Regions from separate parts of the Homo sapiens genome. Here region 2 is linked to region 1. Evidence: fine-mapped expression QTL. A gene starts in region 1. The other region holds a variant in brackets. All regions are shown on one strand. Distances are between the middles of the regions. Region 1 holds the start of TPST1 (tyrosylprotein sulfotransferase 1). Region 2 has its middle 47 kb from the start of LINC02604.

Region 1 (10,275 bases):
CATTTTCTCCTCTTCTGGGCTCTGCCAGGGTTGCGTAGGCTGTTTGGAAGAAAACAGGCTGTGAGCCCTTTGAATTGCCTGAAGATGGGGCAAAGCCATCTATACACAGGTGAAGTTATCTTTTTTTTTTTTTTTTTGAGATGGAGTTTCGCTCTGTCACCCAGGCTGGAGTGCAGTGGCGCAATCTCGGCTCACTGCAAGCTCCGCCTCCGGGATTCACGCCATTCTCCTGCCTCAGCCTCCCGGGTAGCTGGAACTACAGGCGCCCGCCAGCACACCCGGCTAATTTTTTTGTATTTTTAGTAGAGACGGGGTTTCACCGTGTTAGCCAGGGTGGTCTTGATCTCCTGACCTCATGATCCATCCGCTTCGGCCTCCCAAAGTGCTGGGATTGCAGGCGTGAGCCACCGCGCCCGACCGAGGTTATCTTTTTTTAATTTTTTTGAGACAGAGATTTGCGCTGTCGCTCAGGCTGGAGTGCAGTTGCACAGTCTCCGCTCACCGCAGCCTCCACATCCTGAGTTCAAGCGATTCTCCTGCCTCAGCCTCCCGAGTTGCTGGGATTACAGGTGTGCCCCCACCACACCTGGCTAATTTTTGTGTTTTTAGTAGAGATTGGGTTTTACCATGTTGACCAGGCTGGTCTCGAACTACTGATCTCAAGTGATCTGCCCTCCTCAGACTCCCAAAGTGCTGGCATTACAGGTGTGAGCCACCATACCTGGCTGATGCTCTCTGGTGAGGTGATCTAATTCTGGGCTGATCACCTGGAAAGGTAAAGCCCGGGAGAGAAAATAGAAACGCAGAAAGAGTGTTCAGAATCTATGAGGCTCATTAAATTACACAGAGGAATAGAAATGTGGTGTGAATCAGATGTGCATACAGTCTTGGACAGTTTTTCAGGAACAAGTTTTCCTTTAAAAAAAAGTTATGTATTCATTCCTTGTAAATAGGTAATCCAGGCCAGGCGTGATGGCTCATGCCTATAATCCCACCACTTTGGGAGGCCAGCGTTGGAGGACTGCTTGAGCCCAGGAGTTCAAGACCAGTTTGGGCAACATAGCAAGATCCCATCTCTACCAAAAAAAAAAAAAAAAAAAAAGTAAAAGGCTGGGCACGGTGGCTTACACCTGAAATCCCAGCACTTTGGGAGGCCAAGGTGGGCAGATCACATGAGGCCAGGAGTTCGAGACCAGCCTGGCCAACATGGTGAAACCCTGTCTCTACTAAAAATACAAAAATTAGCTGGGCGTGGTGGTGGGCACCTGTAATCCCAGCTACTCGAGAGGCTGATGCAGGAGAATTGCTTGAACCTGGGAGGCAGAGGTTGCAGTCAGCCGATATCATGCCACTGCACACCAGCCTGGGCAACAGAGCGAGACTCTGTCTAAAAAAAAAAAAATTAGCAGGGAGTGGGTGGCGTGCACCCGTAGTCTTAGCTACTCAGGAGGCTGAGGTGGGAGGATCACTTGAGCCCAGGCGTTTGAGGCTGCAGTGAGCTATGACTATGCCACTGTACTCCAGCCTGGGTGACAGAATGGGACCCTGCCTATTAAAATAAGAAAAAAAAAAAAAAAAGGTAATCCAAGCATATAGCACATAATTTTTAAAGGTGCCCAAGAGTACATAGCAAAGAATTAGTCTCTTTCCTATTCCTGTGCCCAAGTCCTTCAGTTTCCCTCCCAGAGACAACACTGTTACCAATTTAATGTGTGCATCTTTCTTGATATTTCCTCTGAAAATAACAAGTGTGTGTGTATGTGTATTTTAAATATATACAAATGGGTATATTATACACACTGTTTTGAACTTTGTTCTTTTCACTTGAGTATATTTTGGAGTTTTTTTTCCTTCTAGCACATATACTATATGTGTTGGGGCAGATTTAGAAAGCAGGAAAAGTTCATCTTGTTCTCAATAACCCTGAGCTTTGCTTCAGATCAAGCTGTTTCTTACTTCTGCCTCAGAGGCTGGACCCTGTCAGAGGCTGGACCCTGCTTCTTACTTCTGCCTCAGAGTGTAGTCCCCGGATCACCTGAAGCTGTCCTGCTCAGTGAGACATCCTGCCGTATGACAGGTTTCACTGAAAGGATCGTGTCCTTTCTTCTTACTGAATTCCCCACATCTAGAATTCGTTCTCACAGTTTAATACGTGCTAGGAGGACCAGTGTCAGCTCCCTATGTGGCTACTCAATTCTTTTTCTAGGTCTTATAGGTGGGGGAAGGATTTTCTGGGCAGTGTGGGAGGTTATCTCAGATCTCCATCTCTACTTTGTGGAAAGAGCCTGGCAGGGGCTGTGCACCGGTGGTGGCTTCCGTATTACTGAGGCCATGGTGAGTCCTTTTCCTGAAGAGGTCTGAAATGTAGAAAGCAGAATGTAACTTGGCCCTTGCTTAACATTAAAAGACTGGTTAGAGGATCGCTTGAGGTCAGAAGTTCGAGACTAGCTTGGGCAACATAGTGAGACCCTGTCTCTAAAAACAAAACAAAAGGTGGGCGCGGTGGCTCACACCTGTAATCCCGTCACTTTGGAAGGTGGAGCCGGGCAGATCATCTGAGGTCAGGAGTTTGAGACCAGCCCGGCCAACATGGCAAAACCCTGTCTCTAATAAAACTACAAAAAAATTAGCTGGGCATGGTGGCAGGCGCCTGTAATCCCAGCTACTGGGGAGGCTGAGGCTGAAGAATCACTTGAACTCGGGAGGCGGAGGTTGTAGTGAGCCAAGGTCATACATACCATTGCACTCCAGCCTGGGCAACAAGAGCGAAACTCCATCTCAAAACAAAAACAAACAAACAACAAAATTGCTGTCTACCATCTTATAGTCAGTTTTCTTATCTATCTCTGTGTGTGTGTGTGTATACACCCACACACATATATACACACACACACATATACACACAAACACACACACACACACACATATATATAATTATTATTTTTTTTTTTGGGTGAGAGGCAAGGTCTCAGTCTGTCACCCAGGCTGGAGTGCAGTGGTGCCATCATGGCTCACTGCAGCCTAGAACTCCTGGGCTCACGGGACCCTCCTGCCTGGGTTTCCCAAACTGCTGGGATTACAGGCGTGAGCCACCACACCCAGTCAGCTGATTATCTGTAGAAGGAGATATCATATGTACCTTAGACAGTTGCTGTAAAGATCAAATGAGGTCCACACAAAAACTTCTTTTTTTTTTTTTTTTTGAGACGGAGTCTCACTCTGTTGCCCAGGCTGGAGTGCAGTGGCACAATCTTGGCTCACTGCAACCTCCACCTCCCGGGTTCACGCCATTCTCCTGCCTCTGCCTCCCGAGTAGCTGGGACTACAGGCGCCAGCCACCATGCCTGGCTAAATTTTTGTATTTTTAGTAGAGACGGGGTTTCACCGTGTTAACCAGGATGGTCTCGATCTCCTGACCTTGTGATCCGCCCACCTCGGCCTCTCAAACTGCTGGGATTACAGGCGTGAGCCACTGCACCCGGCCACACACAAAAACTTCTACACAAATGTTCATAGCAGCATCATGTATAATAGCCAAAAAAGTAGAAACAGATGTCCATCAATGGATTAATGGATAAATAAAAGATGATGTCCAGCCAGGCACGGTGGCCCATGCCTGTAATCCCAGCACTTTGGGAGGCCAAGGCAGGCAGATCACTTGAGGCCAGGAGTTCAAGATCAGCCTGGGCAACTTGATGAAACCCCGTCTCTACTAAAAATATAAAAATTAGCCAGGCATGGTGGCACATGCATGTAATTCTAGCTACTTTGGAGGCGGAGGCATGAGAATCACTTGAGCCCAGGAGGTGGAGGTTGCAGTGAGCCAAGATCACATAACTCCACTCCAGCCTGGGAGACAGAGTGAGACTCTTCAAAAAAAAAAAAGGTGATGTCTGTATAATGGACTATTATTCGGCCGTAACAAGGAATGAAGTGCCGATACATGCTACAACATGGATGAACTTTGAAAATATTATACTGTGTGCAAAGGAAGGTAGTTACCTTCCCGGGTTCAAGCAATTCTCCTGCCACAGCCTCCCCAGTAGCTGGGACGACAGGCGTCCGCCACCATGCCCGGCTAATTTTTGTATTTTTAGCAGGGACGGGGTTTCACTATGTTGGCCAGGCTGGTCTCGAACTCCTGACCTCAGGTGATTCACCAGCTTTGGCTTCCCAAAGTGCTGTGATTAGAGGCATGAGCCACCCCACCTGGCCTAGCAGAGAGCAATTTTGAATACAGCTGTTAGATTCTGCACTCATGCCTTCTCTAATCCATGTCACTGGAGTAGAAATAATTGCTTTGACAGAACCTGGTGTAGATGTGTCTGTAGGAAGAAACTGTAAAATGAATGGATCATTTTGTGAAATATCTGCCCTTTCCCCACCTTTCTTTTGCTTCTTTGCCTTTTTCTCCCTAGTTTTCATTTCTTTCTTTTAGGGCGTCAGCCCCCCACCTCTGTGGTTGGGAGGGACTATTGCACGTCTACACTCTCGTGGGGATGAAATAGTGTTTGAGTTCGTTATTTGCATTTGCGCGTTATCTCCCCGAGGAGATGACAGCTTCTCTGCCAGCAGCGGGCAAAGGTGGGCTCTGAAGCAGAGGAGAGGAATTATCAGGAAAAGCTCATTTTCTTCTCCTGTCCTAGGGTTTCACTGATGAAGGCCTCTGGGACACCCACGTTGGGGGTGGGGGCGGTGAGGACCGCCACCTGCCCGCGGCTCCCCTGCAGCCAGGCCACGCGCGCTGTTGCTAGGGCAACCACCCGGCCAGGCCTGCGGCTGCCGGGAAGCCCCCTCGGGAGCGCGCACGGGAAGGGCTGTGGGGGCGCTGGCCGGCTGCGACGTCAGACCCCCGCCCCTCGGCGCCTGCCGGACCCAGCTCCATTCCCAGCCGCGCCTCCTTCGGTGGGCAGCCGGCCGGAACTCACGAATCAGAGCAGCCGACACATCGTCCGCTCAGCCAATCGTAGCAGATGTGTGATCCCGCCACCTCCCCGGACCCTGGCGGTTGTCGCTGAGTTGGCGACCGCGGGAGACGCTGCTGAGGCGGCTTCGGTTGCGGGTCGGAACGGCGCTGCTCTGCGGGGCCGGTCCAGGCTGGCAGCTGCCGGCGCTTGGCGGTGAGGGCGGGCTCCCGAGTGGCCCCCCACCGAAGGCGGTGGGACCAGCGGCTGAGGCCAGGATGCCGTCCAGGCGGCGCGGCGGCTCCTCACTCATCCCAGGTAAGGGGGACGCGGCGCTCGCTGCGGCTCCGCTCCCCTCTCGTCTCCTCACACCCGGCCCTGTGCCCCGTCCTGGCATCCCTTGGCCCCTTGTCGCCTTCTGCTCGGTGCCTCCCGGTTGTCCAACCCCGCCCCCGAGCGCGGAGCCCCGGGTCTGGCCCGTCCGGCCCCTGCTCCCACGCCCCTTCCCCCATCGCCGGCATTTCCCGGGCTCGGCTTCGCCCCGGCCGCCGGGGCCTCTCCCCTCTGCCCTTTCTCTCCCTTCTCGCAGCCCTGGGACCACGTCCTAGCCCCGCAGTCCCCTGGGATGAGACCCTCGTCTCGCCGGGATCGGACATTTGCCCCCACGTCTACCCCGGCTGCGCTTCTTGAGCTCATCGCCCCATCATCCTACCCGTTGTACGTAGTCCTGTCTGCATGGCAGTCGCCCGCCCCGCTCCAGGTGTCCCTGGGTCTTGCCCTTTTGCTCCTAAGCACCTTCCTTTCCCAACTCGCCTCTTCTCCCCTCACTTTGACCACCCACCATCGCAATCTCCTCTTCCTTCTCTTACTCTTAAACCTCCAGACACTTTCCCACTCTCTGCAATGCCGGATTCATCGCTTTTTTTTTTTTTTTTTTTGAGAGATGGAGTCTCTATGTTGCCCAGGCTGGCTTCGAACTCCTGACCTCAAGCTATCCTTCTGCCTCGGCCTCCAAAGTGCTGGGATTACAGGCGTGAGCCACTGCGCCTGGCTCAGATCCATAGTGTAATATCTTCATTCGTCCTTACATGAGCTGCACCCCATAACATGTAAAGTCCCTTGCCCAGAGTCTAGCACACAGTAGGCCTGGCACATGGTGGGTGGTCACGCATGTTAGCCTCTTCCTCCTTCCAGGCGTTTTGTACTTTCCAGATGATGGTAGCAAGAAGTCCAGTGTCCACAGGGATTTGACTCTGCCTGAAGAATGGTATGGGAGATGGCAGGAGAAATTGGTGAACTCCAGTAAAGCGATTAAATGGTCAATTACTGCATTCATTAAGAAGAAACAATTCTGCTATCCGTGCCATGTATTGTTTTATGTTAATTGCCTTTGTAAAGGATTCTTAGGCTGCTAGTCAGCAGGCTTTGCGGTGTAATTACTCCCCATCCCCTCTCCATCCCCATCTGCAGTGTTTGGGTAACTTTCTTTTTAGGAAAGAAAGAGCCCCTACCTCCCAGCTAAAGTGGCATAGTATATAAGCAATGTGGTACGTGTTTATCTATTAGCTGGATAGTCCAGGGAGCTGCAATGAATTTTCATCTTTTAAGATCCAGGAGGAATCAGGATTTGGATTTCCTGGAATCAGCTGCTGTACAGACCAAATATGCTTAAGAATGAAACTTCTGACAAGTCCTCTAAGAGTGAGAGAGGAATTATCCACCCCTCTCCCTCCCCCTCTCCAAACACTCGCTCTTGGAGGAAATAGCGAGTCGATTTTTAAAAAAGAGTAAAATACGTTTGACTTTTTAAAATGATAAAAGCATTGTCATTGGCCCTGTACTATTCTTGCCACCTTTGCTCTGATGGTCTCAAGCCTGGACGAATCAGTCAGCTTTTTCTGCTCCTGGGCTCCCAAGGCAGACTGGCAAAAATCATATAACTAAACTGCTGGGTGCTGTTTCTGCACTTCTGGATCCTGGAGATCCTTTGACTTAACCTCTAGATTCCTCTTATGTCCTAAAATCTAAATGGCTGTTTATGGATCTTTACCATTTTTCTCTGACTCTTTGTCCTACTCTTGCCTTCTCTTCATTGCTTATTTTGCCACTTAACTTCACAGAATAAATTGGTGGGCATCAGCCCTGAACTCTTAAGGAGAGGTCATTTTTGTCTGTGCCTGTCTGTACCTGATTTCTAATATCCTTTCCTCTGATCTCAGAAGAAGAGGGGTCTTACTTTCGAAAGCTAACGTCTTTGATCTCTTCCCATATTATTATTTTTTCTGTTGGATGGTATACATCCTCAGGTTTCCACCATTCAGACCAAAACAAAGCTTTTCTTGATGCTTCCCTTTTCTTTTTTTATTCTTCTCAGATTAACGTGGCATTCCTTAGGGTTTCATTTTTGTTCTTTTCTCTAATTTCCTTGTGTGATTACACTTCCTTTCATGGCTTCAAATAGCACCTATATATTTATGGTTTTCAAAGACGTCTATTTAGTCCCCGTTTCTCTTGAACCTCAGGTTCTAATTTTCATCTGCCTACTGCATAGCTGTATGTGGATGCTTGATTACTTCAAATGTGGTTACCTTTTCCTTCCCTTTCTCTCCACCCATAGCCCCCTTTAAGCACATATACAAACATTACTATTTTAAGATCTTTACTCTAGAAACCTTAAAATCATCTTCTTTTCTCCTCACATTAAGTCTAGCATAGATCCTATTGTTGTTGCTACCTCAGATCTTTTTTTTTCCTCTCTTCATAACATCTTTTTTTTTTCTCTCTCTTCATTGCCAGAAGACTGGTTCAGACCTTGGTTATGCTTTTTCTGAACCTCTGGGTCCTGTAGTCTACTTAATCCTCCACGTTGCTGCTGGAATTGGTTCCATTTCTGAACTATCAATCTGATCATGCTGCTTGTTTTCTTTAAAAATTCTCATCAGCTCCCAAACCCTTAGCATGTTGAGCCAGTCCTTCCAAGCCTTCTGTAGCATGGGCGCATCCCCTTCCTGGGCCCTTTGTGATCCAGAGAAAAAAGCAGTAAAGAAACAGACCATTCACTACCGTAAAATCAAGACTGTGACAGAGATGACTACAGGGTGCTCTGGGAGCATCACCCTGGTGAGAGTGAGGACAAGTTTCTGTCTACAGGCACCTAGGACTTTTTCTGACTACCCCTCCTCCTTAGTTTGGGTTAGGTGACTTTTCTTTGTGTTTCCACAGCACCCTGTACATACTTCCATCTCCATTTTTACCACTTATACCATTTTTAGTTTTTTTTTTGTGACACAGTCTTGGTCTGTTGCCCAGGCTGGAGTGCAGTGGTAACATCTTAGTTCGCTGCAACCTCTGCCTCCAGGGTTTGAGTGATTCTCGTACCTCAGCCTTCCGAGTAGCTGGGATTACAGGCGCCTGCCACCACACCCAGCTAATTTTTGTATTTTTAGTAGAGACAGGGTTTCATCATGTTGGACAGGCTGGTCTCAAACTCCTGACCTCAAGCAGTCTGCCTGCCTCAGCCTCCCAAAGTGCTGGGATTACAGGCGTGAGCCACTGTGCCCAGCCCATTTTTACTATTTATAATGTTCTGTTTTCTTATTTTTCTCACTGACTTGAGAGTGAACCCTTTAAGAGAAAGAGTTGTGTCATATCTCATTGTATCTCCAGTTTCTAGCAAATTGCCAAGTACATAGTGCTCAGTAAACTAAGTTTTCAGAAGAGCTGAATCTAGACAAGGAAAGGTAAGGGGAGATGGGCAGTTTGGAAGAGAAGGTAACATATGGAAAAGTGTGTCTTAGGCTAGGCGCGGTGGCTCACGCCTGTAATCCCAGCATTTTGGGAGACTGAGGCAGACGGATCAAGACCATCAAGACCAGCCCGGCCACATGGTGAAACCCCATCTCTACTAAAAATACAAAAATTAGCCGGGCGTGGTGGTGGGCGCCTGTAATCCCAGCTACTCAGGAGGCTGAGGCAGGAGAATCGCTTGAACCTGGGAGGCAGAGGTTACAGTGAGCTGACTCCAGCCTGGGCAGCAGAGTGAGACTCCATCTCAAAATTAAAGAAAAAAGAAAAATGTGTGATAACCTGGTGCTTTTGGGAAAGAACTGGTAATTTGGAAAGGCTGGAGAATGGGCATAATGAGCAATGAGGCTGGGAAGGTATATGGGAGCCGCTCATGAATGACCTTGTGTGTCCTAACACATAATCCTGATGATAGCGAGGAACCTTTGAAGGATTTCTTCCTGGGCAGATCTTACAAAGTCTGGCTTGTTCCCATCTCAGGCTTTGTGTCTTGCTGCATGCCTTGCCTTTTGCCTCAGCCATATAAAATCACCTCTATTACCTGAACATGCCTAAATGGCTTTATGTTTCTCTTTCTCCGTGGAATGCGTTTTCCCACTTAGCCACCTGTAGATTATACAGGCTTCTGGTTATCTCTGCAGTAAAGCATTCCCACATCTGCCTGCAATCCATGTCTCTTCATCTCTACTGTCATTTACTTGTTTACATGTCTTTCTCTACTCTAAGGGTAGGGCTTTGAAATCAGGATGGGTTTTGATTCATGTCTGCATCCCCTACTCTGGCAGGTAACATGAATGAGTATTGTGACCAGGTATATTTTGATTATGTTTATTTATTTTTCTAGAGATGGGAGTCTTGCTATGTTGCCCAGATTGGTCTTGAACTCCTGGCTTCAGGTAACCCTCTGCCTTGACTTCCCAAAGTGTTGGGATTATGGGTGTGAGTCACTGCGCCTGGCCCCAGGTGTATTTTCAGAAAAATTACTCTGATCTCTGGTAGCATTGTAGAGAACAGGTTAGAGAGGGGCAAGACTAGGTGCACAAAGACCAATAGGTGGTCATTATAGGAATGTAGGTGAAAGATAATGAGGCCAGTGAGGCTAAGGGGTTAGATTTGGGAGTGAATTTGTGGAGTAAGGAGAACTGGTTAGGTGTATAGGTGAGAGAGAGGGAGAAGGAAGGGTCAAGGATGACATACTGAGTTCAGGCTTGGGTGTCTGGGTAATGGTGGTTCTGTTCATCCAGGTAGGAAATACAGGAAAATAAACAAATTTTGAGGGAAAAGGAGGAAGCCAATGATAACATCTTGATGCCCAGGAAATCGCCTGAGAGAGCAGTTGGCCCTAAAGATGGAGATATATATGGAGGGTCTGTGCTAGAATTGAAAGTGAAGTCATCAGAAGTAGGTGAGATTGCCTGGTTCAGTGATTTTCAACATAGGCACTACTTAAAAACCACCTGGGGAGCTTTTAAAGAATGAGGATGGGGGATCGAGGCATCCACAGGGATTCTGTATCATTTGGTCTGGTGCAGGGCCAGACCTTGTTACTTTAAAGATGCTTCCCATG
Region 2 (10,275 bases), 650 kb after region 1:
TGCCTCCCAGGTTCAAGCAATTCTCCTAGCTCAGCCTCCTGAGTAGCTGTGATTACAGGCACCCACCACCACGCCCGCCTAATTTTTGTATTTTTAGTAGAGTTAGGGTTTCACCATGTTGGCCAGGCGGGTCTCAAACTCCTGACCTCAGGTGATCCTCCCGCTTTAGCCTCCCAAAGTGCTGAGATTACAGGCGTGAACCACCTCGCCCCACCAGGAATCTTTTTTAAGAAGGCTATCTACTTATGGAATTCCTTGCAAAGGAAAGGATTCATTTTGTGATTAAAAAGTAAGACTCTTGGGTTCTTGTTGGACTCCTATCTCTGTTCTTAGTAATATATCTTTGTTATTGTTGACAAATATTCATTCACCACTAGGGTTATATTTAATTGTTTGAGTTATTTTATGTTTTTTGTTGTTGTTGTTTTGAGACGGAGTCTTGCTCTGTAGCCCAGGCTGGAGGGCAGTGGCTCAATCTTGGCTCACTGCAACCTCTACCTCCCAGCTTTAAGCAATTCTCCTGCCTCAGCCTCCCGAGTAGCTGGGAGTACAGGTGCCTACCAACATGCCCAGCTGATTTTTGTATTTTTAGCAGAGACGGGGTTTTACCATTATTGGCTAGGCTGGTCTTGAACTCCTGAGCTTGTGATCCACCTGCCTCGGACTCTCAAAGTGCTGGGATTACAGACTTGAGCCACCGCGCCCGGCGTATTATATGTATTTTTATCTACCATTTTTTAATTTGTCTGGGTCCAACATTGAGTCAGTCATGCCAGTGTTAGCTTTTGAAACATGAACACTGCCCGCACCTGACTGGCATGCAACTGACATTTTCTTTCACAATTTTCTGCTACTTTTGCTAAAAATAATAGTATCCATGTCTTGCTTTTAGACCTGAGATTTTTATACCATATATGGGAATACATGATTGTTCTTCTAGATGTGTAGAGGAAGATAGTCTTGAATGCAATGTGATATTAAAGGATCCCATTTAAGATTTTTGTAATATGCTTCAAAGACCTGTAGGTTGTAAAGTAGGTCACTTGTGAGGACACATGCTCCATGAAGCACCTTATGAGACATTTTACAATTATTATTTTGTTTTGTTACTCTGTAGAAACCTCAAATGAAGGTTTAGTTGCACTCAAGCATCCAGATTGTCTTTTCTTAATTTTTTTTTTCCCTGAGATGGACTCTTGCTCTGTCACCCAGGTTGAAGTGCAGTGGCATGACCTTGGCTCACTGTAGCCTCCACCTCCTGAGTTCAAGCAATTCTCTTGCTTCAGCCTCCCGAGTAGTTGGGATTACAGGCACCTGCCACCACACACAGCTAATTTTTGTATTTTTAGTAGAGACAGTGTTTCACCATGTTGGCCAGGCTGGTCTACAACTCCTGACCTTGTGATCTGCCAGTCTCGGCCTCCCAAAGTGCTGGGATTACAGGTGAGCGATCATGCCCAGCCTGTCTTGTCTTTTCAAAACCATCCTTGGTGATTCAATGTTAAATATGTACTAGTGGATGTTACTTCGCTGAATATTGCCTAGTGAATATTAAGTAGTCTCACCTTTCAGACATGAACTTATGGATTTAAGACATGAAGATTTACAGCTTGATAAACCAGCTTCAGGAGGTAGGTCTTCAGTCTTGAGTCAGATTAGAAGATTATGTGCAGGCTGGCCGTGGTGGCTCACACCTGTGATCCCAGCACTCTGGGAGGCCGAGGTGGGTGGATCATGAGGTCGGGAGATCGAGACAATCCTGACTAACAGGATGAAACCCCATCTCTACTAAAAGTACAAAAACTTAGACGGGTATCGTAGTGGGCACCTGTAGTCCCAGCTACTCGGGAGGCTAAGGCAGGAGAATGGCATGAGCCTGGGAGGCGGAGCTTGCAGTGAGCCGAGATCCCGCCACTGCACTCCAGCCTGGGTGACAGAGTGAGACTCCATCTCAAAAAAAAAAAAAAAAAAGATTATGTGCAATAATTATTTAATGCTTGACATTGTTTTTTTAAAATGGTACCTTCCACATGAAATAATATGCTTGTAACTATTAATTATGTTCCAGGACAGGAGAATTCATGTTGTCAAAATTCTTTTTTTTTTTTTAATTTTTTTTTTTCTTTTTGAGACGGAGTTTTGCTCTTGTTGCCCAGGCTAGAGTGCAGTGGCACAATCTAGGCTCATGCAACCTCTGCCTCCTGGGTTCAAGCAATTCTCCTGCCTCAGCTTACTGAGTAGCTGAGATTACAGGCATGCGCTGCCACACCCGGATATTTTTAATAGAGTTGGGGTTTCTCCATGTTTGTCAGGCTAGTCTCATACTCCCAACCTAAGATGATCCACCCATCTCGGCCTCCCAAAGTACTGGGATTACAGGTCAGAGCTACCCCGCCCGGCCTCATTTGTTAAAATTCTAATACTCTCTAAAACAGTGAACTCATTTTCTTTTTTTAACCCATTATAAATACATGTAAATGTTGCATTTATGGGTAGACAGAACTAAAAGAACAAAATTTGGCCTACTTTTGAGATGCAAGATTTATCTGGCATAATGCATTGAACAGGTTATTATTGAAGTCTACACCAGTCACTTGAACAAGCATTCATGAAATGTCCATGATACCCAGGACACAAGAATGTTTCCTTTTAGAGTATAGAGCCATGCATATCATCTCTTAATTGTTTAGATGTGTTTCGAAAGAAATAGAAATAGAATTGGTTTTCTTACTTGTTTTGCCTCTGGAGTGAAATGGGGACAAAACAGAATGGAATCACACTGTTAAGATTTACTAAAATGGAAGGATTGCAGCAAGATCATATCCCTAGTCTCCCCATAGCAAATGGCACCTGCTAGCTGTTTTCTTTTCTTTTTTTTTTTGAGATGGAGTCTTGCTCTGTCACCCACACTGGAGTGCAGTGGCGTGATCTCAGCTCACTGCAACATCCATCTCCCAGGTTCAGGCAATTCTCCCTGGCTCAGCCTCCCAAGTAGCTGGCATCACAGGCACCTGCCAAAAGGTCTGCGTAATTTTTGCATTTGTAGTAGAGTTGGGGTTTCACCATGTTGGCCAGGCTGGTCTCAAACTCCTGACCTTAGGTGAGCCTCCCACCTTGGCCTCCCAAAGTGTTGGGATTACAGGCATGAGCCACTGCGCCTGGTCATATGTTTTTTTATAATGTTGTTTTATTTTAGGAAAGTAAATACAATGAGTAGGACTCAGCTCCATCAGCTCCACAATTCTCTTACTGTTTTTTTTTTGTTTGTTTTTTTTTTGAGATTGAGTTTTGCTCTTGTTGCCTAGGCTGGAGTACAATGCTGTGATCTCAGCTCACTGCAGCCTCTGCCTCCTGGGTTCAAGCAGTTCTCCTGCCTCAGCCTCCTGAGTAGCTGGGATTACAGGTGCCTGCCACCTTGCCTGGCTACGTTTTTATTTTTAGTAGAGACGTGGATTCACCATGTTTGCTAGTCTGGTCTCGAACTCCTGACCTCAGTTGATTCACCTTTCTTGGCCTCCCAAAGTGCTGGGATTACAGGTGTGAGTCACTGCACTTATCTGTAATGGGATATTTCACTGCAGACTTTGATGAACAGAACATTAGCATTTTTGGTGGTGTTTTTATTTTACTCATAATATTTTTCTTTGGACTCAATTACAGTAACAGAAGTAAAGATCAAATTATAAAAATTAAAGAGCAATACAGATTCAATAATTATTCTTTTCTACATATTGTGTTTAAATGATACGCTTTTTTCTTTTTGTCTTTATAGCTCAAGCTGTAAAAGCCAAAGGTCCACCCCTTTTTTCCAGTCTCAAGCTGAAGATCTTTATGTAGAAGGCCTTCCCCACAGGAATTTTTTTTTTTTTTTTTTTTTTGTGACAGAGTTTTTACTCTTGTCGCCTAGGCTGGAGTGCAATGGCATGATCTAGGCTGCAGTACAATGCTGTGATCTCAGCTCACTGCAGCCTCTGCCTCCTGGGTTCAAGCGATTCTCTTGCCTCAGTCTCCTGAGTACCTGGGATTACAGGCGCCCGCCACTACACCAGGCTAATTTTGTATTTTTAATAGAGATGGGGTTTCACCATGTTGGCCAGGCTGGTCTGGAACTGCTGAACTCAGGTGATCCTCCTGCTTCAGCCTCCCAGAGTGCTGGGATTACAGGCATGAACCACTACGCTAGGCCAGGAATTTTTGTTGTTGTTGTTTTTGTTTTTGTTTTTGAGACACAGTCTTGCTCTGTGCCCAGACTGGAGTGCAGTGGAGCAATCTCGGCTCACTGCAACCTCCGCCTCTTGGATTCAAGTGATTCACTTGCCTCAGTCTCCTGAGTAGCTGGGACTACAGGCGCAAGTCACCATGCCTGGTTAATTTTTTTGTATTTTTAGTAGAGATGGGGTTTCTTTTTTTTGAGACGGAGTCTCGCTCTGTTGCCCAGGCTGGAGTGCAGTGGCACGATCTCGGCTCACTGCAAGCTCCGCTTCCCGGGTTCACGCCATTCTCCTGCCTCAGCCTCCCAAGTAGCTGGGACGATAGGCGCCCGCCACCACACCCGGCTAATTTTTTGTACTTTTAGTAGACATGGGGTTTCACCGTGTTAGCCAGGATGGTCTCGATCTCTTGACCTCGTGATCCACCTGCCTCAGCCTCCCAAAGTGCTGGGATTACAGGTGTGAGCCACCGTGCCTGGCCAAGACAGGGTTTCACTATGTTAGCCAGGCTTGTCTGGTAATCCTGACTTCATCATCCACCCGCCTTGGCCTCCCAAATTGCTGGGATTCAGGCATGAGCCACTTTGCCCCACCAGAAATTTTTTTAGGAAGGCTATCCACTTACAGAATTCCTGGCTTTGAGAGGATATTACTTGCAATGGAAAGGATTTGTTTTGTGATTAAAAAGTAAGACTCCTGGATTC[T/A]TATTTGACTCTTATCTCTCTTGTGAGTAATACATCTTTTTTATTGTTGACAAATATTTACCACTACGGTTATATTTACTTAAGTTTGACTTATATTATGGGGTTTTTTTTTTTTTTGATGGAGTTTCTCTCTGGTTGCCCAGGCTAAAGTGCAATGGTGTGATCTCGGCTCACTGCAACCTCTGCCTCCCAGGTTCAAGTGATTCTGCCTCAGCCTCCTGAGTAGCTGGGATTACAGGCATGTCCCACCAAGCCCAGGTAATTTTGTATTTTTACTAGAGACAGGGTTTCTCCATGTTGGTCAGGTCTCAAACTCCTGACCTCAGGTGATCCACCTACCTCAGCCTCCCAATGTGCTGGGATTACAGATGTGAGCCACTGCACCCGGCCTATTTTAAGTATTTTTATCTTCCACTTTTTAATATATCTGGGTCCAACATTGAGTCAGTCGTGCCAGTGTTAGCTTTTGAAACATGAACACTGCCCACACCTGACTAGCATGCAACTGACATTTTCTTTCACAGTTTTCTGCTACTTTTGCTAAAGAAAATAGTATCCGTGTCTTGTTTTTAGGCCTGAGATTTTTGTGGCATATGTGGGAATATATGATTGTTTTTCTAGTTGTGTAGAGGAAGATAGTCTTGAATGCAATGTGATATTAAAGGATCCCATTTAAGATTTTTGTAATATGCTTCAAAGACCTGTGGGTTGCAGAGTTACCACTTTACTTGTGAGAACACATGCTCCATGAAGCAGCTTATGAGACAATTTACAATATTATTTTGTTTCGTTACTCTGTAGAAACCTCAAATGAAGATTTAGTTGTGCTCAATCATCCAGATTGTCTTTTCTTAATTTTTTTTTTTTCCAAGATGGAGTCTCTTTCTATTACCCAGGCTGGAGTGCAGTGGCATGATTTCGACTCACTGCAACTTCCACCTCCTGGGTTCGGGCAATTATCCTGTCTCAGCCTCCTGAGTAGCTGGGATTACAGGCACCTACCACCACGCCCAGCTGAGTTTTGTGATTTTAGTACAGATGGGGTGCCACCATGTTGGCCAGGCTTGTCTCAAACTGCTGACCTCGTGATCTGCCTGCCTCTGCCTTCCAAAGTGTTGGGATTTCAGGCATAAGCCACCATGCCCAGCCTGCCTTGTCTTTTCAAAACCACCCTTGGTGATTAAATGTGAAATATGTACTAGTGGATATTACTTTGCTGAATATTGCCTAGTGAATATTAAGTATTTATTCTTACCTTTCAGACATGAACTTATGAATTCAACACATGAAGATTTACAGCTTGACAAACCAGCTTCAGGAGGTAGGCATTCAGTCTTAAGTCAGATTAAAAGATTATGTGCAATAATTACCTAATGCTTAACATTTTTTAATGATGCCTTCCATATTAAATAATATGCCTCTAACAATTATGTGCTAGGACAGGAGAATTCATATTTTCAAAATTCTAATACTCTCTAGAACAGTAAACTCATTTTCTTTTTATTAACCCATTATAAATACATGTAAATATTGCATTTATGGGTAGACAGAACTAAAAGAACAATGTTTGTCCTACTTTTGAGATGCAAGATTTTATCTGGCATAATGCATTGAACGGGTTATTATTGAAGTCTACACCAGTCACCTGAACAAACATTCATCAAATGTCTATGATACCCAGGACATAAGTTTTTCTTTTATAGTATGGAGCTGTGCATATCATCTCTTATTGTTAGATGTGTTTTGAAAGAAATAGAAATAGAATTGATTTTCTTACTAGTTTTGGCTCTGGAGTGGAGTGGGGACAAAACAGAATGGAATTACACTCTTTAGATTTACTAAAATGGAAGGATTGCAGCAAGATCATATCCCTAGTCTCCCCATAGCAAATGGCACCTTCTGTTTTTTTGTTTGTTTGTTTGTTTGTTTTTGAGATGGAGTCTTGCTCTGTCACCCACACTGGAGTGCACTGGCATCATCTCAGCTCACTGCAACCTCTTTCTCCCAGGTTCGAGCAATTCTCCCTGGCTCAGCCTCCCAAGTAGCTGGGATTACAGGCAGCTGCCACCAGGCCTGCCTAATTTTTGTATTTTTAGTAGAGATGGGGTTTCACCACGTTGGTCAGGCTAGTCTCGAACTCCTGATCTCAGGTGATCCACCTGCCTCGACCCACTGAAGTGGTGGGATTATAGTCGTGAGCTGCCATGCCCGGCCGTCTTACTGTTTTTAATGTGCACTCATTATTAAAGTTTTAGTCATAACAGGAGAGAGAGTCAGGTAATGGAAACCCATATGCTTTTTACTGAGTACATTTTTCTGTACAGTCAAGGGTTTTATGCACGAAGAGTGAGACTGTTGGGAATCCTTTTTATTGGGCTGTACTTGTGCCTGGGTGCCGCTCTGCGGTAACAGAGAGAGCTTTGACAGCAGCCACCACTGCATTTGAAGATGAAGCCTCAGCGAAGCTCTCTTTTCTGTCTTGCTCCTTAGACACTTCATCAACACCTCAAATACTTAGTTTTGATATTTCCTACAACATCTTTTGCCTCCCAAAGTCACTGTCTGCCCCACTTTTATTCTGCTTCTCAGCAGAATTCTAGGTTGTTGTCACCTGCTCCCCAATACTCTTTTAAAAACTATTTTTATGGAAATTTTCAAACCTTGTGGGCTCTTGCTTGGCTCCTCCCTGTCTCATTTTCAGTCTCTTGAGGCCCCTGCCCTTATCCTCTCTACACTGGGGAGTGCCAGCCAGCAGCTTCACCCTGAGCCCTCTTTCTTTTTTCTTACTGTGTCTTCTTTACAGACAATCCCACCCTGCCCACTTCTTAAAAATATTATATTGTCTGTGTCATTGAGACTCTCATTTCTGGCCCTGAAGATGCCCCTCGTACTAGACCTTTGTATTTGCCTACCTGTTTGATTCCTCCTCAGACCTCATGTGTCCCAGGCAGAGTCTCCATTCCCCTTTTCAGGAGCTCCTCTCAGGGTCTACCAGCTGCCCAAGCCAGATGCCCAGGAGTTACGCTGAGGTGTGATTTCCTGCCTTCCCACATCCAGCCTAGCAAGGCCTCCTGACTCCGCCCTGAACAGAAAGCTCAGATCCTACCCCATCCTCCTTCACTGCCCTCCAGCTCTCAGTGGGAGTCATGCCACAGCGCAGCCAGGTCAGTTCATTGAAAGTAGGAGGTGGAGCCTGTCATTCTCTGGACTGTCATCTGTAGTGGCTTTCACTATACTTGGAGTAAACCTCACAGCCCCTGATGGGTTCTGCAGGGGCGTGGGGGAGCTGCTTCCTGCCATTTCTCTGCTTTCCTGCATCCCCTCTGTGGATCACTTGCTCTGTGCCAGCCACCATGGTCATTTGTGTGCCTTTCTTCCTCTCAGGTCACAGCCTCCTGGCGCTGTCGGGCTGAGGCCTGGTGTTTGTGGAATGCTCTTACTTGAGGGCTTTCTGTGCCTCTCATTTCTATTTGTGTCACAGTTTAAATGTCACCATGTTGGAGAGGTCTTCACTGAGCACCGTCTCACCTCAGCTGTGAGGCTCACTGACTCATCCTCCTTTCATTTTTCACAAAGCCCTGCTGGCTGACTTTTTCCTCCCACTGTAGTACAGTAGTGCTGACAGCGCAGATCATGCCTGTCCTGTTTACTTCTCAAGCAGGTGCTCAACAAATACTCACAGAGTGAATCCATGGCAATAAACTGTTCTCTAAGCTGGCAGAAATGTCTGTGGCTTTTGGCCATGTAGCATGCATTGTGACACTTAAGGGCGCAGGAGGGACTGCAGGCACCACATCTGGAAGGGCCGCAAGCTGTCCTGAGCAAGGAAGGCTGCAGTGGGGATCCATGTTCCCATGACCCTGGGGCCCTCATCTTCTCCTGAAACAGACCCTTTGAGTTTTAGTGCACAGAAGCCAAGTCTCCTGGGTTAGGAGTCCTGCCCTCCCTATGGATTTGAAGCGGGGTGCATGGCACTCACTGAGTCTTCAGAGACCAGCTTCTAGGTGCTACTCAGTTGGCAACTACAAACTTAGGTCACTAATTGTATGTTATTTGCAGAATTTGTGTACTTAGTTTTTGAACTACTTATCCTATTTTACGTCTCTAAGAACTTAATGTATTGAACAAAGTCAAAATGTTAAGTTTCTTCTCATCAGCATTTTTTGTGATATTTTATCTCTCCTTATATCTGACTGTAAATCAGCCAGTGATCCATAAACTAAATAATCTTTCCCACTCTTTAAGTCATTATGTTTCCAAGTGATGTAATAAAATAGATCAGGTGGTGAAAATTGTTTATCATTAGCGATGCCACCATAATGTTACTAAGATTCATGACACCTGAGAAGGAGGATGTCACTAGGAGATGACGCCTGAGAAGGAGGATCTGCATGAGAGGCCCCACCTCTGCCCTCCTGTGTTTTTTGGAAATTGAGCATGGTAAAAGAATCAGCTAAACTTGACCGGGCACAATGGCTCATGCCTGGAATTCCAGCACTTTGAGAGGCTGAGGCAGGAAGATGGCTTCAGGCCAGGAGTTTGAGACCAGCCTGGGCAACAGAGTGAGACCCCATTTCTGCAAAAAAATTTAGCAATTAGCCAGGTATGGTGGCATGTACCTGTAGTCTCAGCTACTTAGGAGGCTGAGGTAGGAGGATTGCCTGAGCCCAGGAGGTTGAGGCTACTACACTTTACCCAGGGGCATCGACAATGACCCTGCGATGTGTGGAAAATCCCAAAGGTTGACCACTGTGAATAGGAACTACCCTAGATGTGTCAGGAGCACCGCAGGCATACTCACTCCTCTGTTTGCTGGAGCCGTGTAGGGTGGAAGGAAACCCAAATCAAGACCATTTGCTGCTTCAGTTCTTTTATTGCATGTGACAGTCCAATATATCTCCATTTAAATTCAGATTTTTTGATGAATGGTCAGACCAGCTGCAGGCCCTTTGGGCCAGAAGTCTTGATCTTGCCAACTGTTCATTTTCCTGAGGGGACTGCCTTACTTCAGGCATTTGTGTGTAGCCGGTCTATTGTGGAGTTCAGAGGGGTGTAGAGCCCTCTCTTTTTGGGACAGTCAGTTCTCCCCATGCAGCATGTCCTGAAGCTGGCCTGTCTCTATCCTGTTTGTAAGTGTGTGAGGTCTTTTATTAAGCAGGGTAAAGTGAGAGAGGACTCCTAAAGAGAGAAAAACTCCTCCAGCATTTGCTGAAACATGTTTGTGAACTGATTAAGATGTGATTGGGATGGCATGAAAACAACTAAAATTTATCTAATTTCTTGCCATCTGGTTTGTGATATATGGTGCCCCAAATTGAGTTTAGAAGGAACTTTGATCATAGGTCAAGAAGGTGTTATAT

Evidence for each region. PIP is the estimated chance that this variant, and not a neighbour inherited with it, causes the effect.
Region 2: its variant is fine-mapped to the expression of TPST1 in whole blood (INTERVAL, PIP 0.97).

What each region holds. Positions count from the first base shown.
Region 1 is chr7:66,200,301-66,210,575 of GRCh38, forward strand. TPST1 (tyrosylprotein sulfotransferase 1) reads left to right here and starts at 5,034. Exons shown (of 6, transcript NM_003596.4): 1 at 5,034-5,222. RefSeq lists silencers at 4,657-4,926, 5,077-5,436.
Region 2 is chr7:66,851,900-66,862,174 of GRCh38, forward strand. It overlaps the pseudogene GTF2IP23. Among named protein-coding and RNA genes, the nearest start is that of LINC02604, 47 kb to the right of the region's middle. RefSeq lists an enhancer at 8,086-8,145. The variant T/A (reference allele first, on the strand shown) is at 4,916.